7 linked regions of the Homo sapiens genome follow. The protein of the gene in region 6 purifies or fractionates together with the protein of the main gene of each other region. This does not show direct contact. Each region holds a gene or a part of one and is shown on either strand. Other genes may lie near its edges.

The links.
Region 1: the proteins of H2AB3 (region 6) and NLE1 purify together in Homo sapiens (affinity purification with mass spectrometry, with the first as the bait; one large-scale study listed by BioGRID). This does not show direct contact.
Region 2: the proteins of H2AB3 (region 6) and DDX31 purify together in Homo sapiens (affinity purification with mass spectrometry, with the first as the bait; one large-scale study listed by BioGRID). This does not show direct contact.
Region 3: the proteins of H2AB3 (region 6) and DHRS2 purify together in Homo sapiens (affinity purification with mass spectrometry, with the first as the bait; one large-scale study listed by BioGRID). This does not show direct contact.
Region 4: the proteins of H2AB3 (region 6) and YBEY purify together in Homo sapiens (affinity purification with mass spectrometry, with the first as the bait; one large-scale study listed by BioGRID). This does not show direct contact.
Region 5: the proteins of H2AB3 (region 6) and ZBTB11 purify together in Homo sapiens (affinity purification with mass spectrometry, with the first as the bait; one large-scale study listed by BioGRID). This does not show direct contact.
Region 7: the proteins of H2AB3 (region 6) and RBM19 purify together in Homo sapiens (affinity purification with mass spectrometry, with the first as the bait; one large-scale study listed by BioGRID). This does not show direct contact.

The regions. Positions count from the first base shown.
Region 1 is NC_000017.11:35,135,525-35,140,005, forward strand, and holds part of NLE1 (notchless protein homolog 1), read right to left. Parts: coding exon 4,325-4,481; exon of another isoform or gene 4,296-4,324; intron 3,791-4,295; coding exon 3,711-3,790; intron 2,367-3,710; coding exon 2,290-2,366; intron 2,117-2,289; coding exon 2,019-2,116; intron 1,670-2,018; coding exon 1,477-1,669; intron 974-1,476; coding exon 838-973; intron 692-837; coding exon 645-691; intron 1-644. UniProt on the Homo sapiens protein: Plays a role in regulating Notch activity. Plays a role in regulating the expression of CDKN1A and several members of the Wnt pathway, probably via its effects on Notch activity. Required during embryogenesis for inner mass cell survival.
Region 2 is NC_000009.12:132,659,560-132,664,040, forward strand, and holds part of DDX31 (ATP-dependent DNA helicase DDX31), read right to left. Parts: intron 3,859-4,481; exon of another isoform or gene 3,813-3,858; intron 3,768-3,812; exon of another isoform or gene 3,666-3,767; coding exon of another isoform or gene 3,663-3,665; intron 3,137-3,662; coding exon 2,880-3,136; intron 2,778-2,879; coding exon 2,702-2,777; intron 1,693-2,701; coding exon 1,649-1,692; intron 1,642-1,648; exon of another isoform or gene 1,408-1,641; intron 222-1,407; coding exon 151-221; intron 1-150. UniProt on the Homo sapiens protein: May have DNA helicase activity and RNA helicase activity. Probably have ssDNA and RNA dependent ATPase activity. Plays a role in ribosome biogenesis and TP53/p53 regulation through its interaction with NPM1.
Region 3 is NC_000014.9:23,642,435-23,646,803, reverse strand, and holds the end of DHRS2 (dehydrogenase/reductase SDR family member 2, mitochondrial), read right to left. Parts: exon of another isoform or gene 4,366-4,369; intron 3,653-4,365; coding exon 3,585-3,652; intron 2,694-3,584; coding exon 2,642-2,693; intron 2,396-2,641; coding exon 2,261-2,395; coding exon of another isoform or gene 2,250-2,260; intron 1,978-2,249; coding exon 1,922-1,977; intron 1,663-1,921; coding exon 1,551-1,662; coding exon of another isoform or gene 1,502-1,550; 3' UTR 1,165-1,501; downstream 1-1,164. UniProt on the Homo sapiens protein: NADPH-dependent oxidoreductase which catalyzes the reduction of dicarbonyl compounds. Displays reductase activity in vitro with 3,4-hexanedione, 2,3-heptanedione and 1-phenyl-1,2-propanedione as substrates.
Region 4 is NC_000021.9:46,292,285-46,296,765, forward strand, and holds part of YBEY (endoribonuclease YbeY), read left to right. Parts: exon of another isoform or gene 1-234; intron 235-3,877; coding exon 3,878-3,946; intron 3,947-4,481. UniProt on the Homo sapiens protein: Single strand-specific metallo-endoribonuclease involved in rRNA maturation.
Region 5 is NC_000003.12:101,670,323-101,674,803, forward strand, and holds part of ZBTB11 (zinc finger and BTB domain-containing protein 11), read right to left. Parts: intron 1,892-4,481; coding exon 1,656-1,891; intron 1,040-1,655; coding exon 808-1,039; intron 1-807. UniProt on the Homo sapiens protein: May be involved in transcriptional regulation.
Region 6 is NC_000023.11:155,458,656-155,461,896, forward strand, and holds H2AB3 (histone H2A-Bbd type 2/3), read right to left. Parts: upstream 1,351-3,241; 5' UTR 1,273-1,350; coding exon 925-1,272; 3' UTR 760-924; downstream 1-759. UniProt on the Homo sapiens protein: Atypical histone H2A which can replace conventional H2A in some nucleosomes and is associated with active transcription and mRNA processing.
Region 7 is NC_000012.12:113,955,858-113,960,338, forward strand, and holds part of RBM19 (probable RNA-binding protein 19), read right to left. Parts: intron 4,322-4,481; coding exon 4,202-4,321; intron 4,047-4,201; coding exon 4,008-4,046; intron 3,548-4,007; coding exon 3,355-3,547; intron 2,194-3,354; coding exon 1,925-2,193; intron 1-1,924. UniProt on the Homo sapiens protein: Plays a role in embryo pre-implantation development.

The sequences.
Region 1 (4,481 bases), on a different chromosome or scaffold from region 6:
AGCATACACCCTGATTACTCAATGCCAGGGACAGAGAGAGGCCAGCGCTAGGAGCAATGAGGACTGGCTTGGCCACTCACTCGCATGTGACCCCAGGCAAGTCACTTCATCCAAAAGGAAAAAGAAACTCTACATGCATGTAGAAAAAAATTTTAAGATACATAATTACAGAAAAAGGCACAAAATAATGTGTTAAAAGAAGGATTTTATGTATGTATGCATGTGTGTGTGTGCTTATACATATATACTGTATATAGACACGTGTCTGTATATTAAATCTCTGGAAGGTGATTCAGGATACTGGTGGCACTGGATGCTACAATAGAGACGGGAGACTCCGCGATCTACCTTTTGTATTTTTTGAACGTGAATGTGTGAACAATCTTAAACAACAAATTAAAGTAAAAAAGAAGCATGTTGGAAATGTAATAAATAGACAAGCAAATAAACTAAACAAAAAACGAAATAAAATGATCTCTAGCACATTAGTATTTTAGGATTGCAAACTAGGATTATGAAGAACAACTTTTTGGAATAGGTACATTCTGAGCTGGGTCTAGAAGGGAGAAGGGTCTGAGAGGGTTTTAGTGATTGGCTAAGGACTGGTACAGAGCTAGGGGTGCACGTGGCTGGCACACACTCACCCGCACGAGGTTGTATCGGCTCAGAGCCCTCTCCTTCAACTCCTGCACTGTGACCAGGTACCGGAGGGGAGAAAAGGAGATGAGGAAGAAGGCCGATAAGAAAATCCAACACAAAGAGCAAACACTCCCCATTAAGCTTGAGAACTGGCTCCTTCCCAATCAGCCCCCGCTCTTCCTTCTCCCAATCACTCACAGGATCCTTGGAGGTCTTGGGGATTAACTGAGGCCTCAGCAGGTTCAAAGGCCCCAGTGCGCAGGGCATAGTCAGTGCTGAGGGCCATGGTGTTCACCCAGTGGCCGTGGCCTTGCAGAGTCCGGCACAGCACACCCTACGGGAGAGCGAGTCAGGTCAGACACACACACTCCTCCCCACGCCTGGGCGATTAGCCCCAGGAGACAGGTGGTACAAGACTAATAATCATCATCACTCATGCATTGTGATCTTAATCAAACTACCCCTCTGGGGTCAAGTCTCTCCCCACTTGTAAAATGGAGTCCAGATCATGAAAATGTTTCATGGAAGAGGAGTTAGGGATGTCAGAGTAAACGGCTCCTGTCCAATACATTTGGGATATGGTAGATCTGATAAAGCCCAACAGCTGTCCTACAGGAGGAATTTCCAGAGTGTGACGATCTCATGGGGACTCTGCAATCTCCACTATGGTGCAGCACCAACCACAGAACTCCTCATTCCCAAAACACCTCCCTAGACCAGGGCTCCCAGCACACATCTGGGAAACACTGGACTCGCTGATGTCAAGGTCATTCTGAGTGCCAGCATCTTGTGACTTGCGATTTTCTGGACTGGTTTCTGAACCCTCCCAGCACTTACGTCATGAGCTCTCCAGACTTTGATGGTGCGGTCCTGGGAGGCAGAGTAGAGAAGCCCGTCCCCTCCCCACCGGAGACAGGTGACCGACTGGGTGTGCCCGGTGAGGATGCGCTCACAGCGGCCTGCAGTTGTGTCCCAGATCCGCACACTGCCATCCTTGGAGCTGCTGGCCACATAGCGGCACTCAGGGTTCCTGGAGAGAAGGGAGATGTGACCTCATCTGTGACCTGGCAACATCTGTGTGCCCATGGCACCTCCCCATTCCCAACTTAAAGGCCATGGACAATCTTTTGACAGCTTTTCTGACACCAAGACCCGGCTGCACTGCAAGGTGACTGCAACCAGCAGACCCTGTGATGAGAGCCTCTCCCAAGCAGCAATGCAGGTCTGCCCGAGACCCTTCTCCCATGCCTGCCAAGCCATCACGGTCATTCAGGCTGCCCATCTTGTCCCCTCACGTAAAACTTCTATGCATTGGGCAGGGAAAGGGGATGGCTTTGATCCCCTGGCTCATTTGTCCCAGCTCCGTCAGTGTCACTTACGCATGGAGGGGCTCCCAGCTCAGGCCTGTGATCCACTTGCTGTGGCCAGCGAGGGTCCTGCCCACCTGCTTCCCTGTGCTTGGGTCCCAGAGGAGAATCTGAAGGACAGAAGCTCACTGAATAATCCTCCCCAACAGGTCTCTGGCTCCACCAAAATCCCTGCCTACCACTTCCCACCCAACCCTCCCCAAAGACTCCTGAACCTGATTCTGAACTGTCTCCTAGGAAGGCCCCCTTGAGTCTCTGCCTAGTTACCCTGAGAACTACCTACCTGGCCATTCTTGCAGCCTGAGGCCAGCTTCCTGCCATCTGGAGACCAGGATATACTAAGGACCCAGTGTCTGTGTCCTAAGAAAGCAGAGGAGGGAGAAATAAGGGACTACATCTGTCTTTATCCCAAGTGCCCAGCAGTGCCTGTCAGGTGCCAGGTACTCCTTAACCATTTGAATAAATGAATGATTGAACAAAAGGAGCGATGAGGCTTTCTGGGGATGGATAGAATGCACCCCAAGTGTTAGAGCTCTGCATCTTGCTGCATGGATAACACCATCACTCTCTAATGACTCCTTATGTGACACATGCTATGAAGTGTTTTTGTACATGTCATCCCTTGTTATTTCTCACAAGAGCTCTAAGCTATGGAGCAAAGCAAGAATTATCATCCCCATTTTCCAGATGAGAAAATTGAAGCTTAGAAAGGGAACATGCCCTACACACACAAGGTCACTTAACTAATCTGTGGTATAGCAGTGGTTCTTCAAGTGTGGTCGTCAGAGCAGCAGCATCAGCATCTCCTGGGAACTTGTTAGAAATGCAGATTCCCAGGCCCTACCCCAGGCCCAATAGAACTAAACCTCTGGGGGTGGGGCCCAGCAATCTGTATTTTTTTCTCTCTTCTCTTTTCTCTCTCTCTCTTTCTTTCATGGAGTCACACTCCATCACCCAGGCTGGAGTGCAGTGGTGCCATCTCGGCTCACTGCAACCTCCGCCTCCTAGATTCGAGCAATTCTTCTGCCTCAGCCTCCCCAGTGGCTGGGATTACAAGCACACGCCACCATGCCCGGCTAATTTTTGTAGTTTTAGTAGAGATGGGGTTTCACTGTGTTGGCGAGGCTGGTCTCAAACTCCTGACCTCAAGTGATCTGCCTGCCTTGGCCTCCCGAAGTGCTGGGATTACAGGTGTGGGCCACCACGCCTGGCCAGCAATCTGCATTTTAACAAGCCCCTGAGGCGGGGCAATTCTGATTTGTGCTCAAGTTTGAAAACCACTGTGGCAGAGGCAGGATTTAAACCAGGTTCTCCTTGGTAGCAGTCAGTCAGCCTCTCACCATGTCCCATATTGACTCCTTGGTGCAGTTTCTGCTTGTGTCTAAGTGGCTGGCTGGGCTCAAGGACATGGTCTCTACCTAGGAACAGACAGCCGCCAACTGGATATTAAGGGGTTGTAATCTGCAAAGTGAGACCCTCATCTGTATGAAAACAAAAAACGAGCCAGGTGTGATGGCAAGTGCCTGTCATCCCAGCTACTCTGGAGGCTGAAGTAGGGGGACTGCTTGAACCCAGGAGTTCAAGGCTTGAGCCCAGGAGTTCAAGTGAGCTGTGACTGCACCACTGTACTCCATCCTGGTCAACAGAGCAAGACCTTGTCTCAAAAAAAAAGAAGACCCCCTAAATGGCTAATTGCATACTGACCCTTGCATGTGAAATGTGGTGTCTCTGTGCTGAGATCCCAGAAGCGCACGGTGGTGTCTCCAGAGCCACTGGCCAGGTACCTGGGGAAGAAGAGAGGATGCTTGACACTGCACATGTGCATTTGTGCCACCTATTCAATCACTTTCTGTGAATAGAATATGGAACTGGACTCTTTCCTCGCCCCTGGAAGGGAGAAAGACAATACTGATGCTGTCCTCTGGGAGAATACATCAGGAGGCCATTTCTTTCCTCTCCACAGCTATAACCAGCTTTTGAAGCTTCTCATTACCTTTCTAAGTTTGAGAGAAGCAACTAATCCCAGTTTCACAGATGAAAAATTAACTCGGAAAGGTTAAGTGATTTATACAAGTCACACAGCTCAGATCTTGAAAAATCAAGTCTAGGAGAGGTTTGTCCAAGGCAGGGGTCCTTAAGCAGCCTTTGGGGACCATGCCCTACTGAGGAAGTCCCTTAATTGCAAGCTGAGTCCAGAGCTTGGGTCTATGGTAGGCAGCCCTGAGGCCCCATCAATTATAACTCTGGGAGACCCTCCCCAAACCAGGCAAAGACTGCACCCCCACATACCCCCTCCATGAGTCTGCAGCTGTCCTTACTTTCCCGTAGGGCTGAAGGCCACAGAAATGACTGCCTCACTGTGACCCTCCAAGGAGCTGGTGCAGCGAGTCACAGCCCGGACTCTGAAGATAGCCTGTGGCTGGTAGATGATGTCTAGGACCTTCTCTGTCTCCACTGCCTGGGACTCCAACGTCT
Region 2 (4,481 bases), on a different chromosome or scaffold from region 6:
ACATTCAGGGCTCTAATCAAAAGCATGGCCTCCCTCCCCCAAACGAAACAAAACTGCCACCACCACCAACCCAGACACCGCATGGCAAAACCTAGTGCATGACCATGGGCCTGAGCAGATGAAAAAGGGCAGAGATGAAATGAGACTAACCTGAGCCCGTCTGGGATCTCACGAGAGCATCTCTGCCTTCCAGCAACACAGGAATACTTTGCTTCTGAACACTGGGCCACCCGAAAAAAAGAACACACTTTACCTATATTACCCAGTTACTGGCAGAGACGCAGGATACATAAAAGGCAACTGCCCACACTTGGATTCATCTGGCAACTGCCTCCTTAGAAGCTATCAAAGCATTCAAATAAAGGTGTGAAGAAACTTTTGATGATTATAAAGATCAAACCCTAGTTATATTTTTAGAACTTAGCCTGAAAATGGTGAGGCAAACCAGAGACTGGCCATTCTATTAAACTAATTCTTTTAAAAATGGGACAGGCAGCCGACTGCAGTGGCTCACACCTGTAATCCCTGCACTTTGGGAAGCTGAGGTGGGTGGATCACCTGAGGTAAGGAGTTTGACCAGCCTGGCCAACATGATGAAACCCCATCTCTACTAAAAATACAAAAAATTAGCTGGGAGTGATGGCACGCACTTGTAATCCCAGCTACTCAGGAGGTTGAGGCAGGAGAATCGCTTGAACCTGGGAGGCAGAGATTGTAGTGAGCCAAGATCGCACCACTGCACTCCAGCCTGGGCAACAAGAGCAAAACTCCGTCTCAAAAAAAAAAAAAAAAAGAAAAAGAAACAGGCATGACAACAAATCAGAGTTACCACCAAGTGTATCACACACTCTTGCCCTCACTAACAGGAATATGAAACACAACGAAACATAATGGAAAGGTTTCCATGCAGGATAGCAGGAGGAAGCTCGCCAACTATTCAGAGAGCCAGCAGCAGCTGTCCATTCTCCAGGAAAAGGTTATGGACATGCTGAAATGTGTGTCTACACATGTATTTTAAAACAAGAAACAAAAGAGACACAAAAATCACTTAAATTTGGTTGATAAAAAACTTGTGGGGAGGTCCCTTAATTTGGACTTTAATATTCCTATTAATTTTTACTAGTAAAAGTAAAAAATCATTATGAAAATGCACAGAAGCACAAATACTCAAAACAAGGAAGCTCATCTCCTCGCACCTATTTTACTTCTTTATTTTCCAGGAGTCATTCCCTGTAACAAACATTGAAAACATTTTTTCAGTATCCCACTCTATCCAACTGAACATTTACTCTTGTCTTTTTGGTTGACCCTAATTCTTACTACTAAGAAACGACATGGTCACATGCTATATTTTGGCCAAATTCTTTTCAGGGAAGCACAGAAAACAGCGGCGCTCATGCAGCCCACCTTCTGGATGAGACGTCTCTTGCGGTTCAGAGCCAAGGGCAGAACTGGATGGAAAGCCAGTCTTTCCATTTAACAGGTGGAGAGAATGAGTAGCTAAGTGAGACGACAACCCTTTATGGTCGATAACCTGGCACTGTGTTCCAACGCCAAGACACAAATTTGCTCTGCCTTGCACACACAGGTTTCGTCCGGTTATACCCACGTAATGCCTAAGAAATCAAGAGGAGCCTGAAGTTCTTACCTGGTCATACTAGACATTTTTAAGACCGTATTTATTGTGGAAATCTAAAAGAGGAGATGAAAAAGCTTTAATTAATATTTTGATACAAAATATTTAACGGAAATTACACAAGAAAGGAGAAACTATTGAGAGAACATTGACTACTATGATCAAATTAAGTTCCTCCACCCAGGTGGTGCTCTCTACTTGGGGCGATTCTGCCACCCGCCCTAACTCCCTGGGGACACAGGGCAAAGTCTGGAAAAATTTGTGCTTGTTATAACCAGGGGAGGGGGGCACTGCTGGCATCTAGTGGGTAGAGGCCTGGGATGCTGCTGAACATCCTACAGTGCACAGGACAGTCCCCAAAACTAAGACTGACCTAGTCCAAAATGTCCACAGCACCAAGGCTGAGAAACCCTGATCCACCCCCCAGGTGAGAAAACAAGTTTAGGTAACCCACCCTACAGAAGGGGTAGTAAGCTGTAACCGAAAGTGCAGAGGAAACCAAGCCTGCCTAAAAGTTAATATATTTTTTTCTTCTTACTCATGAGTCTGGAGAACTCACTTTTTTTCCTTTAAAGTGTCCATTTGTTTGTAGAACACACACCAAAATACTCTTCTTCCCTTACTTCTCTAAAACTGTGGACGTCCTTTAACAGCAAGATGCCAGCACAGTTCCCTCTCCTATGGCCACTGTGACATCTGCCACCACAAATGGCTTCACCACTACAACTATCCAGTAAATAGGGAGCTGTTTTAAGTTTAGCAAGTGATGTCCTGACCCTAAATCACGTTAGTCGAGGAAAGTCTTCAATACTTAAAAAAACACACACACAAAAACACAAAAAAACAGAGGATGGGGGAAGGGGGGGCCAGAAAACAGTGAACAGTAACCTAAGCACCCTTGAACTGTCCTAGAAGAGTATCATATCAATCTGAGTTCATTCAGGTAACTTAGAGCAGAAACAAACACTCTCTGATCTCTCCTCCTAGAGCGGCCATTTCACAGACCTTCTGAACGGACAAACACACCAAAAAAAACTGACCCAGAAAACACTGAAAGGTACTTACTAAATGTGGGTGGAGGCCCAGCTCATGAAAAGCAGCTGAAGTAAACACTTTTTCTTGCACCTGCTTTACCACAGGTCTGCAAATGATGAACAAGAACCCAGGCATCAGTGCCAATATTAACAAAGAAAAGGCAGAACACATTTTTTTCTTCCTGAAGGGCATCCGCCCCTGGACATACCTGTGGAGTTCTGGAATGTCAGGGTTGTTTTTAAACAGTGATGAAGTCTTAATGCACTGTCTCTCCTCCTGGTTTCTATCACTTGTGCTAACCGAATGCTTCTTTGGAGAAAACATTTTTTGTGCGTTCCCCTTAAAAGTCCTCTGAGTTTCTTTAACACTAGTTTTCTTGGCTGGGAGAAATGAAGTTTCGTTCCTCCGTTTCGCTGGGGGAGCCTCACTGGACGCTTGGTATTTTCTTTTCGTAGCCTTTGCTTGCTGCGTTGTTCCCAGAAGGAAAGATCAACAAGAGATGCATTAGTCCATGAAAACAGAGCTCGGAGTGAAGCCTGACTGCCCACAGAATTGCATCTCTCCCTGCAGAGATCATTATGCCCCATATGTCAAGCAACAGTTTAGGGTTTGCAATCAGACTCTTTGACTCAGCTTCTTCCAAAAGGTAAAGAAAAGAAAAAAGAAAAAAGTCTCAGCTCACTCATCTACCAGACCTCACCAGCCATTCTTAACTGTTAAATCAATCAAGATAAGGTAAGGATGAAGAAGCAGCATTTTTCCAGTTGAATGTTAACTAATGGAGTCTGTTTTAAGGGAAGCAAGAATCCACCTTGTGAAGGGTGTGTCAATCCATATTCCTAGGAACCCATTCACCCAAGGAGAAAAGAGGGGTGGGGGAAAACGAATCTTTTCTCTCCACCAACAAAGCACACTGGAGACCGCACAGGAGAGAGGGGCGAGGGGGAATGCGCATCTCAGCCCGTGCCCAGGAAGCGGAAACATTCATTACCATTCTACCCTAGCGCCTGGATCTCTCTCATTCTCTCCTCTCAAGCTGCTCCTCCAGATTCAGACGGCCTGGAGAAAATTCCTACGCCCTGTTCCCATTCCAAATGAGAATGCTGCTCCATCCATCACCTCTACCACAATTACTTCCTACCTCCCTTGCCTTTCGAGTCTCTGAGTCCCCGAGTCTCTGCCTGATTGCGGATTACAGGCTACACAGCACTAGGGATCTCTTGCCTGTTGCTTCTTATTTCCATTACAGGAATGTGCTTAAATGCATGATGTCCAAACTTCCCCTAGGAGAAGGAACATCCAATTCCTCTATTTTCTTTGGCCTTCTTTTCTGATTTACAAATGAATATAAAAGCATCCCTTGAGTAGCCAGTGCTTGTTATTCTGGAGTTTTGGGTTCTCTCAGAATATGTTATTTTCCTCTTTGCTTGAAATAATGACTTGGTTTTACATGTCGGCTTTCTTTAGCCATGACTGTCAGCTTCAGACTAACCTACCAATAACAACAGTTCTTTGTTCCCTAAGGATTCTTTTACCTAAGTAATTAAATACAACTTCAAATATCTAATATTAATAAAGTAAAAACGGACATATTCCATCTTACAAATTTATTTTTTACAAAATCTCAAGTTTATGAATTTTCAGATTAAAGAAAGAGATGAAATCAAGTTTCAGGTTTGTTGAATCATTTGCAAGACAGTATGAAATGTGCAGACTTCACCTGATTTACAGACCCAGGACTCCTGGAGCACAAAAACTCTTAAAGGCCACTCCCGCCATACATGGACTTCCTGACAGTCCCGGGCAGGTG
Region 3 (4,369 bases), on a different chromosome or scaffold from region 6:
CTGCAACCTAATTTGTTCGTATGTTTAATGAGTAGGTCTCAGCTCCAATGGCACCTCCACCAGCCTCACTGGAAGCCATGGTCCTCCACGGTCCTGTGATGCTTTGCATATGATGTGCCTACCCTGGCTTGCCCTCAACCCCCACACCCTCAACTCCTCTGCCCTACTCCTTATCTTTTTTATTCTGTACCTAGTAACACTATATATAATATAGTTTGTTATTTATTGTAGTTTCTCCTGACTAGCATGTGAGCTCATAGGGCAGCAAATTTTGTTTTGTTCATTGCTATACCCTAAGCTCCTAGAACAGTGCCTGGCACAGAATGATAGTCAATAAATGTATCAAATGAATAAACATGTTCTGCCTCATTTTCTGATGACTATTCTACCTTCTGTTTTCCCACCACACTGAAGGAACTGGAGGGAGGTTTGGTCTTATTTACGTTTGTGTTCTCCAGGGTGCCTGGCACAATGCATAGCTTGTAGTAAGATGCACAAATGCTTTTGTAATTGAACCATTCACACCACAAGGACCCGTCCCCGGCTGGTGTGGAGAGGAGGTGTTGCTGAAGGGCTTCCATGAGACCAAGGCCGGGGGTCAGCTTGGAAGCCTTGTCTCAGTTCCTCCCTCTGGACTGGTTCAGGACAACATTTATGGGTGGCAAGAGTGGTGCTCAGGGCCACGGATGGCTCGAGGACCACTGTTCCCCCTCCACTGTGCTGAGCCTCAGTATGCATACACAGAGGGCGGTGCCCCCGAATATGACTCAGGACAATACACAGGGCCTTTTCTGAGAAAGCCATGTGTTCACCCCAAGAGGAACTTCAGCTCTGACTACTCTCCTCTAACTGGAATTATGCACAAGATTCGGTATAACTGTTTTCTCTGGGTTCTCAAAGGCCTGTGTGGCCCAGAAAACATTAAGAAGTATTAGCCTGGAGGACCCCTGGGAGAACCCCAGAATCTTTCCACTGTCACCCACCACCACCTTGCTGAGCCCCCAGCAGGCCCAGTTCAGATAATGGAGCACACACAAAGCCTTCTGCAAGGCAGCACACTCACTCCCGCCTCTGTGTGTCTGCGACGAGCTCAGGGCAGCTGGCGGTAGAGGCCTCTTCCCACCATGCTGCCCTGGGCTCTACCCTTGACAGATGCTTCCAGACTTGAGGATAAATTTGAGTTTATTTTAGGAAAAAAAATGCTTAAAGCACAAATTACAGAGAGGAGGAGCTGAAATCCTTCAAAGGCCTGAGCTTCTACTCCTTTCCCTTAAGATTCCTCCAAAGCACCAGCTCCATAAAATCCTTCAGCTCCCCAGACCCACACCAAGAACCCCACATGTTAATTGGATCAGCCAAATCTACAAGCAGATAAGTCCTAAGGAGAATGCCGAAGCGTTTTTCTTCTTCCTCAAGCCTAGCATGAGTAAGCCCCCAAATTGCTAGTCTGGCAGAATGGCAGACTCTGCCTCCAGATCCAAATGATCACCTAGACACCCCCTCAGGCTCCTGGGCCTGGGACCACAGCTACGCAGCCGCCCCCACTCCTCTCAGAGCCGAGTGGAGTAGCCTGCCACCGCAATGTTCTCCCCGTTGACGTAGCTGGCATCTGGAGAGCACAGGAAGGACACGATTCCTGCACAGTCCTCTGACTCCCCAATCCTGGATGGAAGAAGGACACAGTGTCAAGCATCTTGTACTCTGATTCTGCTGCTCTGGGGCTCACGGATGACAGGTGGGAGTGGGCTCCATGGGGAACAAGGTGGATGCAGCAGGGCTACTTGCACCCTCCAGGGCCATGTGGACTCCAGATTTCAGCAAAAACAATGGCCAGATGACAGGGAGGGGTCTGCTCTTGCAATAGACTCAACTGCCCCTGCCTAGCCACACATGGACCACCAAATCTCCAAACCCCACTTGCCTCTGCAGCTGATGATGTTCCTTGAAGTTCTTCCAGAGAGACTCATTCCCATGAAACTGGGCAAAGGGAAGAAATGAAGGAGTCAGTGCTACTAAAACAAGATGGGCAGGGCCCCGGGAAGGCCACCAGGCAGAACACCTAGGGCAGCTTTGCCCTTCTCAAAAGAAGGAGCATCTTTTCAGGATGGATGGACTGCACCATGGCTGAGTTCAGAGAACAATGAGGACCTCAGTCATAGGCATGCTGACCTAAGGATTCAGTCACCCCTTGATCCCTTATTCACTGGGAAGGGTTCCCACTGAGCCAGACTGGGAGATGGAAGACACACCCAATCCTCACCACTTTGCTGAAGTCAGTTTTGATAATTCCTGGAACCACGCAGTTTACCCGGATGTCCTTGGGGGCCAGCTCCAATGCCAGTGTTCTAGTGAGACCCAGCAGCGCTGTCTTGCTGACATTGTAGACACCCAGCGCCTGGGAAGGGAATTGACAGAGTGATTAGGATATGGGAGAGTGGGGGAAAGCATCAGTTGGATTTCTCACCTACAGGGATCTCACAGGCCCAGCAGCCCTCCCACCCACATGGAGACAAGCTCAGCCCAGGGCAGCAGGAGGATGGTGGGGGTCTGTCCCAGGCACTTTGTCTGTAAGGCTCTGAGGAAAAGAACAAAGTTGCCCCTCACCCTATACCACTCAGGAGCACAAGGACCAAGCACTTACCACTACTGGATTATAAGCTGCAATGGAAGAGACCAGGATGACAGCACCCCTCCTGAGACAAGACAAACATAAGAGAAGCTGAAGCTAAGAGCTTACCACTGATGGTGACACTATCATGAGTTCATTAAATGATGCAACCCTCACAGAAGCAACACAGGTCCTATTACTGTCCCCATCTCAGAGTTCAGAAAACTGAGGCTCAGAAAGGTTTAGTACCAGCCAATACACGGCAGAGCTAGGATTCCATGCCTATTTCTCATAAATACGATGTCCATGCTCAGAACCCTTATCTTCTGCTTCCTCTCTTGCCAGGTGCTTGAAGGAGAGGGCAGGGTGGGCTTTGTGAAGAGGCACCCAAGGCTGATGGTGAGTGCCTATCAATGAGCAACCTCTAAGGAGCAGATGGGGTAAGGGAGACCAGAAGTGACAGTCAGGAACTTTCCTTCTACTGAAGACAGCCCCTGGCCAGTTCCTAAGGGTGTGTCTGTGAGGGGTACAGTCAGATCTGCAGGACCTGGAACACAGGCAGGGTCCCTGGAGACCAAGCGCAGGCATGAGGAGAGGTCTGGGACAGGCTTTTTCCTATGGAGAGGAATGGGGCTAACCCTGTCATTGGTTTTAAGTTGGTAAGAACAGAGAGCAGGTAAGGTGACAATGACCAGCCCACAAGGTCAAGGAGTTAAAGCATAGCCTTGTCCCAAACCTGCTGATGTCAAGGCCAAGGAGGCTATGCCTGGGCCCCTGGAATACTACTCTCATCCTGCAGCCACTGGAATTGGGAATGGCAGCCACACAGATGGGGAGGCAGGACAAGAAGATGAGGGATGTGGAGATCCCAGACCTCTTCTGTCCTCTACCCACTACTGGCTGTGCTACCGACTGTATTTCTGTGCCCACCTCAGGTCCCCAACTCCGACTGGTCCCCACCCCCGCCCTGCCATACCTGTTCTCCATGTAGGGCAGCAACTGGCTCAGCAGCAGGGCTGGGGACTTCACGTTCACACTTAGGATCTGAAATCAGAGCAGAGCATGGGTGAGGGCAGAGAGACATGGTCAGCCCAAGTCCTGCTCTCATAAGACACTTGGAGCCCTGTAATTTGTGCAGTAGACCCAATGTATGTGCATATAAGAGAAACCAATCCCCCTTCTGACTGGTGCAAGAGGTATTTCCAATTTGCTAATGGTTTCATAGGCAGGCAGGCTAAGTCACAGGCCTGTGAGCAGAGCCCTGAAAATGTGAATTGTTCAGGACTGACACGAGGAAGGAAATGTTCAGGCCTTTTAAAGAAAATGGGGACTGGGGGCAGTGGGTCATGCCTGTAATCTCAGCACTTTAGGAGGCCAAGGTGGGAGGATTACTCAAGGCCAAAAGTTCAAGACCAGCCTGAGCAACATAGTGAGACCTTGTCTCTACAAGATTTTTAAATAATTGGCCTGGTGTGGTGGTGCACACCTATAATCCTAGCTACTCAGGAGGCTGAGGCAGGAGGATCCCTTAAGCCCAGGAGTTTGAAGCTGCAGTGTGCCATGATCATGCCACTGCACTCCAGCCTGGGTGACAGAGTGAGACCCTGTCTCTTAAAAAGAAAACAACAACACACTGTAAGCAGAGGCCTCTGGAGAAAGACTGAAGACAGCCTGATGGAGGGGAAGCAGGTGCTAGAAGCAAGGGAGATTTCTGGAAGAGCCTTTTTTGTCTCTCTGAGCTTTCATTTGCTTGTCCTCTTA
Region 4 (4,481 bases), on a different chromosome or scaffold from region 6:
AGTAGGGAATTACAGCAGGGCAAGCTGGGGAAGCAAGGCCTGCGGGCTGGTTCTCCTCAGGACACCTACATCTGAGCAGAATTCAGGCCCCTCCCATCATCCTAATCTTGTGGCCCTTCACAAGCTTCACAGAGGTGGCTTCGGTCTTGAGCAAGGAGGGGATTCGTTTTAGGGAGGGATGATTACTATTCTTGATTTAAAGTTAAACTCTAGATTAAATTCCTCCCGTGGTTAGCTTGGCCTGTGCCCGGGACTGAGTGGGGACAGCCACGCAAGTTAAACTCTAGATTAAATTCCTCCCGCGGTTAGCCTGACCCGTGCCCGGGACTCAGTGGGGACAGCCACGCAAGTTAAACTCTAGATTAAATTCCTCCCGCGGTTAGCCTGACCCGTGCCCGGGACTCAGTGGGGACAGCCACGCAAGTTAGACTCTAGATTAAATTCCTCCCGCGGTTAGCCTGACCCGTGCCCGGGACTCAGTGGAGTCAGCCACACAAGTTAAACTCTAGATTAAATTCCTCCCGCGGTTAGCCTGACCCGTGCCCGGGACTCAGTGGAGTCAGCCACGCAAGTTAAACTCTAGATTAAATTCCTCCCGCGGTTAGCCTGACCCGTGCCCGGGACTCAGTGGGGACAGCCACACAAGTTAGACTCTAGATTAAATTCCTCCCGCGGTTAGCCTGACCCGTGCCCGGGACTCAGTGGGGACAGCCACACAAGTTAAACTCTAGATTAAATTCCTCCCGCGGTTAGCCTGACCTGTGCCCGGGACTCAGTGGGGACAGCCACGCAAGTTAAACTCTAGATTAAATTCCTCCCGCGGTTAGCCTGACCCGTGCCCGGGACTCAGTGGAGTCAGCCACACAAGTTAAACTCTAGATTAAATTCCTCCCGCGGTTAGCCTGACCCGTGCCCGGGACTCAGTGGGGACAGCCACGCAAGTTAAACTCTAGATTAAATTCCTCCCGCGGTTAGCCTGACCCGTGCCCGGGACTCAGTGGGGACAGCCACACAAGTTAAACTCTAGATTAAATTCCTCCCGCGGTTAGCCTGACCCGTGCCCGGGACTCAGTGGAGTCAGCCACGCAAGTTAGACTCTAGATTAAATTCCTCCCGCGGTTAGCCTGACCCGTGCCCGGGACTCAGTGGAGTCAGCCACACAAGTTAGACTCTAGATTAAATTCCTCCCGCGGTTAGCCTGACCCGTGCCCGGGACTCAGTGGGGACAGCCACACAAGTTAGACTCTAGATTAAATTCCTCCCGCGGTTAGCCTGACCCGTGCCCGGGACTCAGTGGAGTCAGCCACGCAAGTTAGACTCTAGATTAAATTCCTCCCGCGGTTAGCCTGACCCGTGCCCGGGACTCAGTGGGGACAGCCACGCAAGTTAGACTCTAGATTAAATTCCTCCCGCGGTTAGCCTGACCCGTGCCCGGGACTCAGTGGAGTCAGCCACGCAAGTTAGACTCTAGATTAAATTCCTCCCGCGGTTAGCCTGACCCATGCCCGGGACTCAGTGGGGACAGCCACGCAAGTTAGACTCTAGATTAAATTCCTCCCGCGGTTAGCCTGACCCGTGCCCGGGACTCAGTGGGGACAGCCACACAAGTTAGACTCTAGATTAAATTCCTCCCGCGGTTAGCCTGACCCGTGCCCGGGACTCAGTGGAGTCAGCCACGCAAGTTAGACTCTAGATTAAATTCCTCCCGCGGTTAGCCTGACCCGTGCCCGGGACTCAGTGGAGTCAGCCACACAAGTTAGACTCTAGATTAAATTCCTCCCGCGGTTAGCCTGACCCGTGCCCGGGACTCAGTGGAGTCAGCCACACAAGTTAAACTCTAGATTAAATTCCTCCCGCGGTTAGCCTGACCTGTGCCCGGGACTCAGTGGAGTCAGCCACACAAGTTAAACTCTAGATTAAATTCCTCCCGCGGTTAGCCTGACCCGTGCCCGGGACTCAGTGGAGTCAGCCACGCAAGTTAGACTCTAGATTAAATTCCTCCCGCGGTTAGCCTGACCCGTGCCCGGGACTCAGTGGAGTCAGCCACGCAAGTTAAACTCTAGATTAAATTCCTCCCGCGGTTAGCCTGACCCGTGCCCGGGACTCAGTGGGGACAGCCACACAAGTTAAACTCTAGATTAAATTCCTCCCGCGGTTAGCCTGACCCGTGCCCGGGACTCAGTGGGGACAGCCACGCAAGTTAGACTCTAGATTAAATTCCTCCCGCGGTTAGCCTGACCCGTGCCCGGGACTCAGTGGAGTCAGCCACACAAGTTAAACTCTAGATTAAATTCCTCCCGCGGTTAGCCTGACCCGTGCCCGGGACTCAGTGGGGACAGCCACGCAAGTTAGACTCTAGATTAAATTCCTCCCGCGGTTAGCCTGACCCGTGCCCGGGACTCAGTGGAGTCAGCCACCCCAGACCTCTCTCACTGTTATCATTTTTGCACAGGTGGTTTCAGCAGCTTGATGCCAAAAAAAAAAAAAAAAAAGGAAAAGCATTCTGAAAAGCCATGTATGAGTGAATCATACTTAACTTGGCCTCCTTTGGCTGCACAGCCATGCCCTGAATCGCCCTTGTGGATCCAAGTGCATCTGTGTGGCTTGAGGCAGAGCTTCCCAGCCAGACCCAGTGTGAAAGGATGGGACGGCCACACAGGAACCTGGGCCCCAACTGCTCCCTCCAGACCTGGGTGGGACTTGCCCGCCATGCACACCCTGCTGGGGAAGAGGGAGTTTCTGAGAGTGACAGGAAGTGGCCCAGCCGGAGATTCAGCCCTGGGATCTCTGTGGCCAGCAACTGTGGGCGGGGGGGTATGTGGACATCTGCTTCCATTTTCCCCAAACCTAAGATTCTGTTCCCTGGTCTTCCCCTGGCATTTCTTCCTCGGGCCCAGAGCCCTCTCCTTGGGGCTCCCTATTACCCTGAGGGGAGGGCCAGCCCACCAGCCCAGGACCCCATCCTCATAGCCACAGGCCAGGCCAGCTCTGCTCAGGGCTGGCTCTCAGCTGCACTCTCCATCTACCCTGCCTTGTCCTCCATGTCTCCAGGCACCTCCCGCCAGCCCCAAGGATACCCACCTCCCAGACCTCCCTCTTCCCTCCACCCAAACCCCAGGGGAGTGCTACCCCTATGGCCCATGTGGCTCCATAAACCCCCTTGGTGCTGTGCCTGCTCAGGGTCCACAGGCCCTCCCTCCTCTTCCTCCTCCTCCTCCTCTTCCCCCAGCTCTGGGCTCCATCCGGGTGCCCCTCCCCTGTGGGCTTTAATCCAGCCCTCTCTCCAGGGGGACATGGCGACTGTGGGTCTTCCTGACTCACCAGCAGCTGCACCTCCCTCCGCCTCCGCCTTCATACCTCTCCCGCACTCCCTGTGCTGCCTGTGCCCCAAAGCTCTACCCAGAGTGTTCAGTAAAATCAGGGGCCACCGGAGGCCCCATCCTGACTGGGGGTTGGACCTGGGGTGTGGGCTGTGCGCTTGCCTCGTCCCTCTTAGGGCAGGGAGGCCACCCCTGGCCGGTGCCCCACTGCCCCACCACCCCGTGGCACCCACCCCTCCCCACTTCTTCATATTCCATCCCCCCTTGCCCATTGCTCCTGCGGCTGGGCAGTTCCATCCTGGGGGCCCCTCCCCAGCACAGTGCTGGCCCAGACAGCAATCCACGTTGACTAAAGACTCTCAAAGGGGCTTGCTTGCTTTCCATTTTAGATGGAAGGGAACTGAAGCTGAGTGCCTGTAATTCCTGCCCAGGGGTCTCACAGCAACCCTGGGGTCCTGCAGCCACATACCAAGAGCAGCCTGTGGCCCTGGGGTGGCCCTGAAGGGGCAGGTTCCTGTGGGGTCATCCTCTGAGCCGGTTTAAAATTATTCTGACAGGTGACGGCCACCCACGGACTCTGTCACTTGCTGGGATTCACACACGGCACGGAGGCAGAGTGGCAGCAGGTAAGGAGCCCATCCATCCCACTACCGAGGGGGTGCGTGGGGGAAGGAGGCTCCCCCAGGCCCCTGCCAGCCCCCACCCTCCATCTTGACCGCCCCCGCAGGAACTGGACCTCAGACCTGCCCTTGTAAAAATGACACAGATGTTTGCTTTCAACACCGGGCTCCCCAAATACTTCCAGCTGAATGTGTTCACTAAGGAAAGCGGTCTGAGTGCAGAGGCCGAGAGCCACAGCTGACACTAGCACGTGGCGCTTGGTCAAAAAGGTCCAATCAGCTAGAGACTAGGCCAGACCCAGGGCGGAGGCGGGAGCTCTGCGTGGAGTGAGTTCCGGGTTGGTTTCCTCCAGACCCATGCGCTCCGCCTACGGAGGCCCACGTGGGCTCCGGTCCACATGGTTAACACGCACGCAAGCCCGTGTTGGGAGCAAACTGCTTCTCTGAAAGTCATGAAAAACCTTTTTCATTAAAAAAAGAAAAAGTTTGGCCGGGCGCAGTGGCTCACGCCTGTAATCCCAGCACTTTGGGAGGCCGAGGC
Region 5 (4,481 bases), on a different chromosome or scaffold from region 6:
CAGCAAGTTTTATATGATGAGAAAACGTATAAATAATGCTACCTATAATTCTTCCTAAATTTTCATTTGATGACTCATAAGCCAATATATAAATTCTAGTGAAGCCAAAAGAAAGTTGAACTATTTATTTACAATAATGATACAAACAAAAAACAAACCTGGGATTTTGACTTTTCTATATTGATAATTTGATTATTGAACTTAATAAACTCTAAGGATTAATCTTTAAAAACCAAAAGACTTATAAAATACTCTATAATTACATGTCCCACAAAATAAGACATAAACAGTCAATTTTTATTTGCTTTTTATTTTTAGAGGCAGGGTCTTGTTATATTGCCCCGTCTGGAGAGCAGTGGGTATTCACAGGTACAATGACACACCACAGCCTGGAACTCCTGACCTTAAGCAGATCCTCACATCCCAGCCTCCCAAGTAGGTGGGACTACAGGCGGGCACCACCACACCTAGCTTAAACAATCAATTTTTAAATAACATATTCATTTAATGTAATAATTTTGTTGCACTTATGGATTTCACTCAAACTGTTTTTAACAGTTTAAATCCTAGAAATTCTTTTTCTGCTATAATTGTCTCACTTAAGACGTAGTGAAAGGAAATGACACCCTTTTCCATAACTCTACCACAGAAATCTTGCTAAAAAGAACCTTTTCAGTACAGCTTAGTCTACTGTTGTTAGTGGGCTTCTCTTACTTTGGCATAAAGTCCGTGTGTGGAAGACATACATATCCCCCTCTTCTAGAATGTCATTACAAACAAAAAGCAAGAGTAATACAAAACCCTTACCAGAAAGATCCACCACAGCCTCATGACTGGAAACAGCTCCTTTCTCAATAAAAAGATCTCGAAAATACTCGCTATTTGCTGACAAAACAGATTTATGAGCTTTGTACTCTTCTCCTTCAATTAACAAAGTAACATCACAGAACTGGTTGGAAAGTCTCTGTTCGTTCAGCTGTTTTAAGACAGCCTGACAATGTTTTGGAGAAGAACGTTTTACCACTCCTTTGGTGTCAACCTGTCAAAATAAGTTTGAGAGCAAGAGTAACATATTACCTGTATTTTTTACCCTTAACAAGCTTTAAAACAAGACACATTACATATTACCTTTTACCAGGTATGAATAATTTGATATTTTCTTTGTTACCTATGTATTTAAATAAAAAGATATGTTGTCCTATCCTATTTTCTGCCATGTTCATTCTACCTCACCTAATGAAAATCTGTATCTCACTTCTGGCTGCCTCTTCTTACTAATCAGAAATATGATGATGTATGAAACTGATGCAGGTGAAAAACAAAGACCTGGCCAGATTAATTTTACCTTGGGGCGTAAACTCAGAGACTGCTTCCAGAAATGTAAATCTGTCTACTTGTACCAATATATCATCACAAAAGAAGGGAGGGAGGATAATTAACAACAAACCAACAGGTAATTATTAAGTTCATTCTGAAAAAATAACAGGAACATTTATGATAAATGAAGAGGCAGTTCAGCTTATATAACACAGTACACTGCCATTTTGTCTTATTCAATAAGCAGTCTTAGTGGTTTGAGAAAAATAAGTCACCAAGGCTGCAAATACTAGTACACTAGTTACAAATCTTAAAGCTGACTGGAGAGTACCACTTACAAACACAAGTTCATGTTTGGATACTGGCTTCTTTTTTGCAGGCTTGGATGCTGTAGTTGGAGATGAAGTAAAGTTGCTCAGGTCATCTTCCGATTCATTACTTTCTTCTCCAGATTCAAGGTCTAGTCCCAATTCTTCCAACATTTCTGAAACATCTGATATTGGACGGGATCGATCTAGTTTCTCCTGGCATTTGCTACACTGTTTAATGTAATCTTTGACTTGCTTCAATATACCTACAATGAAAATATTAACAAGTCAAATTTAATACTGTTAACTGAAAACAGAATATATTATTTAGTCTGTGCACATTAACACATTTCAGTACATATGTGCAGACATTCATGTCCCATAAAATATGTAGAGTTTATTAGAATGTAAAATATACTTTTTTCCCAAAAAATATAAAGTTATAAATGATGTTCTCCTGCTGAGGTAATTTTTTTTATTTATTCCCAGTTATTTGTTTCTCTAATCATAAGATGACTATATAGCTCCACCCATTTTCATGTGAGTTGCAATGTTTTCATGCAAGAGGAACTATATGAAACTGCCAATATTCACCTTTTTTTGACCTACACAAATTAACAATTTAGGGCATGATGGCGCACGCCTGTAATCCCAGCTACTCTGGAGGCTGAGGCCGGAGACTCACTAATAACCCGGGAGGCGGAGGTTGCAGTGAGCTGAGATTGTGCCACTGCACTCCAGCCTGGGCAACAGACCAAGACTCTGTCTCAAAACAAAACCAAACAAATTAACAATTTAATATGGCTCAAGCTAATACTTCTCCACCCCAGTGACATTAGGCTTGACCGTGTGATTTGATTTGCACACATGTGATGTGTACCATATCTGAACAGAACCTTAAGAGGTACTGAGTATTTTGCACCAGTTCTCTGATCTTTGTCCCCTCTCACAAAGAACAGCAATGTCCCAGAGGGATGTTGTTCTTAAACCTGAATTTCAGATGAAAAAAGCTGAAACCAATCTGTAGCCTGGAACAGGACTACTACAAAACTTGTAATGAAAGTTTAAAATAAATCTTTTGTTTTTGAAAGTTATGAGATTTTAGGGTTGTGTGAAATAAAAGCATACACAATCTAACAAAAGTTGATTATATACAAGCCACTCACAAAAGATTTTGAATTTCAACTTCCAGCTCCCAGCATGCTAGGGTAGGGGTGAGGAGGCAGGGACAAGGCTTTATGTATATGTACACACATCCCACTATCATCCTTGTAAGAGAACAATTAATTCCCATTCTATACAAGAGGAAAATAAAGCCCTAAGAGGTATGTAGCTTGTCCAAAGTCACATCTAGTAAAATGGCAGAGCTAGGCCTCCAGAAGTCATGGGATTTTCGGTATATTATTCTACTTACACAAGAGCACGCTTGTCCATTCCTAGGGCAGAAAGTTACCCCCAAATCTTCAAATAAGTACAAATGAAAAGGTTATGAGGTAAAATGATAGAGGTATGGTATAGAGAATATTCCTGAAAAGTGTTTTAAAATGTCGAATTATACAAAGCTCCTTACACTTTTTTTTTTTTGAAATGGAGTCTCTCTCTGTTGCCCAGGCTGGAGTGCAGTGGTGGGATCCCGGCTCACTGCAACCTCCGCCTCCTGGGTTCAAGTGATACTCCCACCTCAGCCTCCCGAGTAGCTGGGATTACAGGCGCCCGCCACCACACCTGGCTAATTTTTTGTATTTTTAGTAGAGATGGGGTTTCACTATTTTTGCCAGGCTGGTCTCAAACTCCTGACCTCAAGTGATCTGCCCGCCTTGGCCTCCCAAAGTGCTGGGATGACGGGCATGAGCCACCTTGCCTGGCCACCAAGTTCCTTATACTTTCAATCTTCAAATAGTATTCAAGCAATATTTTCCAAATTGTATTATGTCCCACACTGATTATAAAAGTATACACTGAAGTCATAAATTCAGAAAAATTTTAGCTATATGCAATTGACATTTATTATTAGAACCTCTGACTTCTACGGTGAAGAAACCTGTTTAACCTAGGAATTTGTCAAATTTATGGATTCACAGAGACTGTTTTTTTTTTTTTTTGCAGAACATAAACAATGGGGCTTGGGGCGTGGCTCACACACTTTGGGAGGCTGAGGTGGGCGGATCATTTGAGGTAAGAAGTTCGAGACAAGCCTGGCCAACAGAGCAAAACAAAAATTAGCTAGGTGTGGAGGCACGCGCCTGTAGTCCCAGCTACTCCGGAGGCTGAGGCACCAGAATCACGTGAGCCTGGGAGGCGAAGGCTGCAGTGAGCCGAGATCGCGCCACTGTGCTCCGGCCTGGGTGACAGAACAAGACTCTGTCTCAAAGAAAAAAAGAGAAGAAAAGAAAGAAAGGAACAATGGGTTCGAGTTAAATATAACTTTATCAAAAAAGCATTTATATGAGTGTAGATTTAGAGACCAAAAGAGGTTGTATTGGCCGGGCGCTGTGGCTTACACCCGTAATCCCAGCGCTTTGGGAGGTCGAGGTGAGCAGATCATCTGAGCTCAGGAGTTCGAGCCCAGCCTGGCCAACATGGTGAAACCCCGTCGCTACTAAAAATAGAAAAATTAGCTGGGCGTGGTGTAATCCCAGCTACTCTGGAGACTGAGGCACCAGAATCGCTTGAACCCGGGAGGTGGAGTTGCAGTGAGCCGATATCGCGCCACTGCACTCCAGCCTGGGCAACAGAGTGACTCTGTCTCAATAAATAAATAAATAAAATAAATAAATAAATAAATAAACATCGTCTCAGGTTTTTGCCTTTTAAGACACTGCACACTAAAAATTAAAAAAAAAACAACTGGATTAG
Region 6 (3,241 bases):
GCGGGGCGACGTGCCCTGCGTCCCCCTCGGCGGGCTGCCGCCGTGCCCGCGCCGGCTCCCCAGCCCGAGCCTGCCCCTTGCCCTGGTGAGGTGCAAAGAGCGGGATCGGAGGCGGGGCCTGGCCGGGCTGTGAGCGGCGTATGCAAATCGAGGGTCTCGGGGATGCGGATCCAAGACCCTGGGAAGGTACGCGGGGCCTGGCGGGGCACCAGCTGCTGCTAGCTCGGCTGCAATGCAAGTGGTCTAGGTTGCTAAAGGCATCCCACAGCCTCTCCATCTGAACATGACCCAAAGGAAACTCGTGACCCTAATTCCATGTCTGCGCATTTCTGGACTGTTGTCCCCCCCCCCCCCCCCGCCCCGACTACTCAGTCCTCCGTCTTCCGGTCCAGGGCCCCTTGCCAAGCACCGGGTCCACCTCTCCGTCCCCACCCCGGTTGCCTTAGAAGTCCGTCCTGTCGCAACACTGCAGTCATGGTCTTGAGGCCCACCCGCCCCAACGAACACCATCATGCTGAGGACTTTCCCGGGCAGGCCCTGACTTGCTCAGAACCAGCGGGGGTGTCCCCTTCCCACCCAGGGCCACTCCCCTGCACTGTCACCCGGAGAGACGGCTCCTCTGTGCCATCCCTGGCTCCCACCCAACCCCAGACCCCCACCACCTCTCCATCCCTCCAGCTGTGGAGGTCTCACAACCCCCCAACCCATCTCACCGCCCCCCCACCCCCACCCCAAGGCAAAGTGACTGAAGCGGGCAGATGGCTTCCTTGAAACATTTTATTGACAGAATTAATGAAGGCCCAAGACTTTGGGGCCTGGGTTGTGGGGGGAGGGTGTTTAAGGCCGGGGGTTCAGGCCGGGGGATTTGGGGCCGGGTGGGTGGACGAGTGGACCTGTCAGGTCCCAGGGGCCGGGTGTCAGAAGCTAGTCCTCGCCAGGGGCCACTTGAGAGATGGTGGTCGTGTTGAAAAGGGTGCTCAGTAGCCTGTCGTTGTGAACCACCATGTCCAGCAGCAGGGGAGTGATGTTCCGCTCTCCGCTGTTCTGGGCCTCGTTGCCCGCCAGCTCCAGGACCTTGGCCGTCAGGTACTCAATAACCGCAGCGAGGTAGACCGGCGCCGTGCGACTCAGGCGCTGAGCGTAGTGGCCCTCCCGTAGACTGCGCTCCACCTGGCTCACTGAAAACGAAAGCTCCGCTCGGACGGTGCGAGAGCAGGTCCGCCCCCGGCCGCCAGCACCGGAGGACCCTCGGCGTCTCCTCCTCCTCGGCATGCTGGGCGTTGAGTGTGCTATCTCGGCTTGGCCCAGCTAGGCAAGATGGCTCTCAAGAGGACAGTTACCGCGTCCAGTACTGTGTATCCTAGCGACCAGGGCCCAGCCCCTCATTGGCTAGGGAGCCGAGACCAATGGGCACGCACATCCGGCGACGGGCACGCATGTGGTGACGGCCCCTCACAAGGGACACACGTCCGTCAGGTGACCTCATCACTTTCCCATTGGCCTCGAGGGAGCAGGCCTGGGCCTAGAAGTGGCTGGAGGGCCGTGGGGGTGGGGTGGGGCGGGGCAGGGGGAATCGCGCTGGTGACCCTCTCTTTGCCAGTGGGAACTTTCCCTTTCTACTGGATGGGAACACCGTGGGAAAGACAAAGGGGTGGGCGAGGGGAGGACGGGTACCACGCCTTCACAATGTTGCACATCCATCACGACCACCTAGTTCCAAAACGTTTTCAACACCCCGAAAAGAAACCGAAACCCCTGTACCTATAAGCAGTCACTTGCCGCACGCCTCCTTCCACACCACCACTACCAGCCCCCACACCCTCCCACACACACCCCCTGCCCCCGCCCATACACACGTTCCCGATAGTCCCTGGCAACCCCTAGTCCATCTGCTTTCTGTCCATAGAGGTTAGCCTGTTCTGGAGATTTCCTATAGATGGAATTATACGACCAAATGTGAGGCCGTGTGTGTCTGGCTGCTTTCACTTAGCGTAATGGTTTCATCAGGGTGCATCCATGTAGAGGCATGAATCACTACTTCCTTCCTTTGAATGACTGAGTACGATTCTGTTGTATGAATAGGAGGCCACATTTTGTTTACCCACTCGTCAGTTGATGGACAGGTTATTTCCCCCTTCTGGCTATTGTGAGTGGCACTGCCATGACCATCTCTCTACAGGTTTTTCTTTGAATATCTCTTTTCAGTTCTTTTGGGTCTATTTCTAGCAGTCAAACTGCTGGCTCGTGTGGTAATTCTGTTTAACTTATTGAGGAACCACCAAACTGATTTCCACAGCAGCTGTAATCTTTCGCATTCCCAACAGTAGTGCATGAGAGTCCCAATTTCTTCACAGCCTCATCAAAACCTGTTTTCTGTTTGCCTCATTTTGTTTTGTTTACAGTAGCCATCCTACTGGGTGTCAAGTGCTATCTCATGGTGGTTTTCATTCGTATTTCCCAAATGGCTAATGATGTTGCTGTGGTTTGAGTGCATCCCCCAAATTGTGTGTCTTGGAAACTTAATCCCCAAATTCACATGTTGATTGGAGGCGCAGCCTCTGAGACGGTAATTAGGATTAGATAAGGTCATCGGGGTGAGACCCCCAGGATGCGACTGGTGGCTTTATAAGAATAGGAAGAGAGGCCTGAAACGACATACACGCTCTTGCCCTCTCGCCGTGTGATACCCTCTGCCGTCCCCAGATGCCGGGTCACTTCCCAGTCCCCAGAACGGTAAGAAATAAATTTCTTTTCTTTATAAATTGTTCAGTGTCGGGTATTCAATTATGGCAACAGAAAACAGACTAAGACATCTTTTCATGTGCTTCTTGGCCCTCTGTACCTCTGCTTTGGAGGAATGTCTATTCAAGCCCTTTGCCCATTTTTTAATTCGGTTGATTGTATTTTGGCTGTGGGCTTCTAAAACTTATTCATATATTCTGGAAAATAGACTCTTATCAGATATGTGACTTGCAAATGTTTCTCCCATTCACTTTCTGGATAGAGCCCTTTGTTGCCCAAAAGATTTACATTTGGATGTAGTCCAACTTGCCAAATGAAAAGATATCTGTGGCTTTGCCTTTGGTGTCATACTGAAGGAGCTGTTGCCTAATCCAAGGTCGTGCAAAGTTACATCTCCGTTTTCTTCTTAGAGTTTTATAGTTTCAGCCCTTACATTTAGATCTGTGATCCATTTTGAATTAATTCTTTACATGATGTGAGGTAGGGGTCCAGGGGCCTT
Region 7 (4,481 bases), on a different chromosome or scaffold from region 6:
TTTTATCCTGTATTTAGTAACAAGGTAGGCAGAGGGGAGTGAGCCCTGCTGGGGGTGCTGCATTCCAGAGGGTTCTCTTCCTGAAACCTGAAGATTCCAGAATTCCAGCATATACTTAGGCACGGGGTCAGAAACCGGAGGCAGGGAGCAGTGCTACCATGAGTGCCTTTTTGTAAACGAAAATTCAGAGGCTGAAGGAAGTAAAGTATCTCACCCAAGGACCAACAGCCACTAAATGATGGAACTAGGATTTGAACTCATAATTCTGACTTCCCCACACTCTACTACCTCACTGAAATATACAATTTTGGGGGGGAAGAAAAGGACAGAGTGCATAATTAGAAGAGGCAGAAAATAAAAGGAGGGAGGAAGAAGAAAGGGAAAAGAGGAAAGAAAAGAGGATGAAGCTTGCTTTCATCTCATTTGAAAATACAGGGCTGGGGCCAGGTGCAGTGGCTCAGGCCTGTAATCCCAGCAATTTGGGAGGCTGAGGTGGGTTGATCACTTGAGGCCAGGAGCTCAAGATCAGCCTGGACAATATGGTGAAACTCCATCTCTACTAAAAATACAAAAATTAGCTGGGTGTGGTGGTGTGTGCCTGTAATCCCAGCTACTCGGGAGGCTGAGGCATGAGAATCACTTGAACCCGGGAGGCAGAGGCTGCAGTGAGCTGAGATCACACCACTGCACTCCAGCCTGGGCGACAGCAAGACTGTCTCAAAAAAAAAAAAAAAAAAAAAAAATACAGGGCTAGGCAGGGAGAGAAGTGATGCTTCACAGAGAAAGGAGGGAACAGGGACCTGGACAACATGTCAAACTGCTCTGTCTCTGATGCAGAGAGGACTCCCAGGTCAGAGACGAGTTGGCCGACCTCTGGGGAAGCGCCCACGTTTATGATCTCGACTTCAGACCCCACAGACCTGGGGCTAAGTCCTGAACCCACCATTTCCCAGCCATGACCCTGGCTGAGGCACCTTCCTTCTCCAGGCCTGTTTCCTCATCTGTAAAATGGAACAAGACCAATACTGCCCTCCAGATAGTGATGAGATGCAACGGCACGGCAGGCATGGTGCCTAGTGTGTAGCGCAGGCTCAGTTGATCCTCCCTATGATTGCTGATGACTGGTCTGCACCCCTCTGCCTGTGTTGTTACTAAATACAAAGGATAAAGGCTCAAAGCCATCACTCAGCTCACTTCTGCCCCATTGGTGGGATATGGGTGTGTTGACCGGGGCTGCTCCAGTTTGCCCGGGATAGTTGTTCACTCTATCTGTAGTCATTAGACCTGCAGTAACTACATCCACAGCCTGGCACCCCACTGGACTAGCATCTCACTTTTAACTTAGTGTTGACAATAATTTAGTTGTCACCCTACTTATAGGCAATTTCTGGAAGGCAGGTGACCTCTCCAGGTTAGCAACAGAAAATAAATGCAGAGGCTGGGTGCAGTGGCTCATGCCTATAATCCCAGCACTTTGGGAGGCTGAGATGAGTGGATCACTTGAGGTCAGGAGTTTGAGACCAGCCTGGCTAACATGACAAAACCCCATTTCGACTAAAAATACAAAAAATTAGCTGGGTGTGACTATAATCCCAGCTACTCAGGAGGCTGAGGCAGAAGAATCACTTGAACCCAGGAGGCGGAGGTTGCAGTGAGCTGAGATTGCACCACCGCACTCCAGCCTGGGTGACAGAGTGAGACTCTGTCTCAAAAAATAAAATAAAATAAAATAAAAATAAAAACAGAAAAGAAACGCAGAAAGAACACACGGCGAGCAAGCGGCAGGGCCAAGATCGGGAAGGCTTTGGACTGCAGAGCTGCGTCTTTCCCCAACATTCCGCTCTCCTAACAGAGGAGCTGTGGGGACCACGGGCAAGCAGGAGAGCGCACCTCCTCCCTCATCACCTGCGGGATACACACGCACCTCGGCTCTGGCCTCCGGTGGTCTCTTTTTCCCAGCTGGCATCCCTTGCTCTTGGCCTGCACCCTTGCTGTCTCTTTCCTGCAGGACTGGGGTGGCGGAGGAATCCTCTTCCTCGGCCTCACTCCCTTCATCACAGTGCACGGCTTCATCTTCACTTTCCTCTTCCTCCGAGGAAGAGGACGACCCAGCCTTCACCATCTTGGATTTCAGGTAATCCATGTCCGACAGCTCCTTCTGCACAGCTGCCTTTGGTTCGAGGCTTGCCTCTTCTGGAAAAACAGGGAAGCTGGGATCAGCGACAGCTATGAGCAAACCAGAGGTCAGAGGTAGCAAATGGTAGATGGTCCTCCTAGTGAGAGGCCTGAGGCACCATGCCCACCGTGTCCATGGCCCCTGTGCCCAGCATCCCCCATAAGTCCTCTGATTAGCAATACCAAAACGGGGCAGGGCTACTGCAGCTTTGATATTCTCTGTGCCACACATTGAGCTCCTGGCTCCCTGCCACCAGCCATGTCTTCCTAGTCCTCTACACGGCAGCCTCTGTGACACTTTACAGAGTAGGTACAGGACGGTCAGTCTCTGCTTAATACCCTCCAGGGGTTTCTGAATGCTCAGGGTGAAATCCAGGCTCCTCATCAGGGCTGGCTGCGTGGGCTTCTTCCACTGTCTCCTCCTGCTCAAGCCATCCCAACCCACATTGAGCCCCTCAAGCCCATGCACTTTCCTTTCCTCTGTGTCTCTGCGATGCTGTTCCCTTGACTGGAACCCCTTTCCTCTCCCCTCCCCTACCGTGTCCCACTAAGTCCCCTGAGTTCCTCGGATGTGAACTTAGTGCAGAAACGTTACCAGGCATAACTGCACTAAATGTACATCTTCTCACCTTTAGACCCAAATAGATGCCCAGTTCTCCACCAAGCACGTACCCTCCTGTGTTGCAACTGTTTTCTTGCCCACCAGGCCTCCCCCACACCACAAACCCCTTCTGAGGACAAAGGCTCACTCCCTCACCTCCTCAGGGAGGCCTTCCCTCATAATTCTCCTGTCGCCTTTCCTGCTTTCTCTCTGTAGCATTCATCATCCTATGATATACCCAACAGTGGACTTATTTGCTTATTGTTTCTCTCCACAACCATAATCACAGCTCCATAGGGGAATAAACCCTTCTGTCTTTTGCTTATCAACATGGTCCCAATGCCTGAAGTATGCCTGGCAGATAATAGGTGCTCAAGAAATATTTGTTGACTGACTGACTGAATACACAACTAGGATCAGTGAAGACAGATGCACCTGCAGAGGGATCATCACCCCCAATGGAGAGCTCAAGGGCTCACCTGACTCCTAGAGTCTGCACAGAGGGGCCCCCAGTGCCGGTTAGCCCAATGGCAAGCACAGGTCCGTGCGCATGGAGCACACAGTCCCCATGCCCTCACCTTCCAGGTCCTCCCCGGCTCCCTCCTCCTCACTCTCCTGCCCAGAATCGGAGTCGAAGTTCAGGTAGTCACTGGCCGGCTTGCTCTTCCCTTTCGAGGGCTCAGCATCCAGGCCATCATTCGCCCAAGTGGCTGCCTGCGCCCGCCTCTGATGAACTGACAGAAACTCCTGGAACTCTGTATCCTCCTTCAGCTGGTGGCACCAGAACCCGGGCGGCAGGGACACGGGAAAAAGAGAGAGGAAGAGGCAGAGAAGGCTCAGGTGGGGCTTGATCTTTCTAACTCTTAAGAGGGTGAGAAGATCCCTCAAGCTAATTTCCCCCATTCTCTGGAGGACCCCGAGGTTCAGCTGGGTCAGTTCTGAGGAAGGCAGAGTTGACTCCTCACTAGACAAAACTAAGAGGACAAGAAGACAAGGCCAGGGGAGACCAGAGGCACAGCTCTGCTTGCCAGGGCCAGCCTCCATCCTCTCCAGCCTCTTCCCTCTCCCAGTGTCCACCCTCTCCAGCCTCTTCCCTTTCCTAGCCTCCACCCTCTCCAGCCTCTACGGTCTCCTAGCCTCCACCCTCTCCCAGCCTCTACCCTCTCCAGTCTCCACCCTCTTCCACCTGCTGCCCACCCTCTCTCCTCCTTGGGCAACAGGACAGACTCACCTTCTCCAGTTGACCTGCCACCTTTTTCTTCTTCTCATCCTGAAAACAGAAGGCACAGAGAGTGAGGGTCACACAGATGAAGAGAGCTGGGAAACAGAACTGCACTGACCTGGGAGGGCCCATCTTTGGGAACCAAAAGTGAGTGACTACCCTGCTGGCAGTGGGGACAGAGGCTAGAGTGACCCTTTACATACTTTCTTAATTTCTGGAGTAGTAGAGTCTTTTGGAGGCTGCTTGGGCTGGCTTGGTTTCTGGGCATGTTTGCTCCAGGCTCTGGGTTTGGCCGGGTCCCCGAATGACTTGCAGAACTCCACCTGTGTGGGAAAGAGAGTGATTTTCACACCTGCCATGGCACCCAGGCGTTGGGTGCTGCCCTTCGGCACCTGGGAGCTCGGGCATTTCAGACAACTGTCACTGCCTAGCTGAGTTTGCTGAAGTAGATTACACGTCACCCCTTAGCCTGGGCTTTCTTTC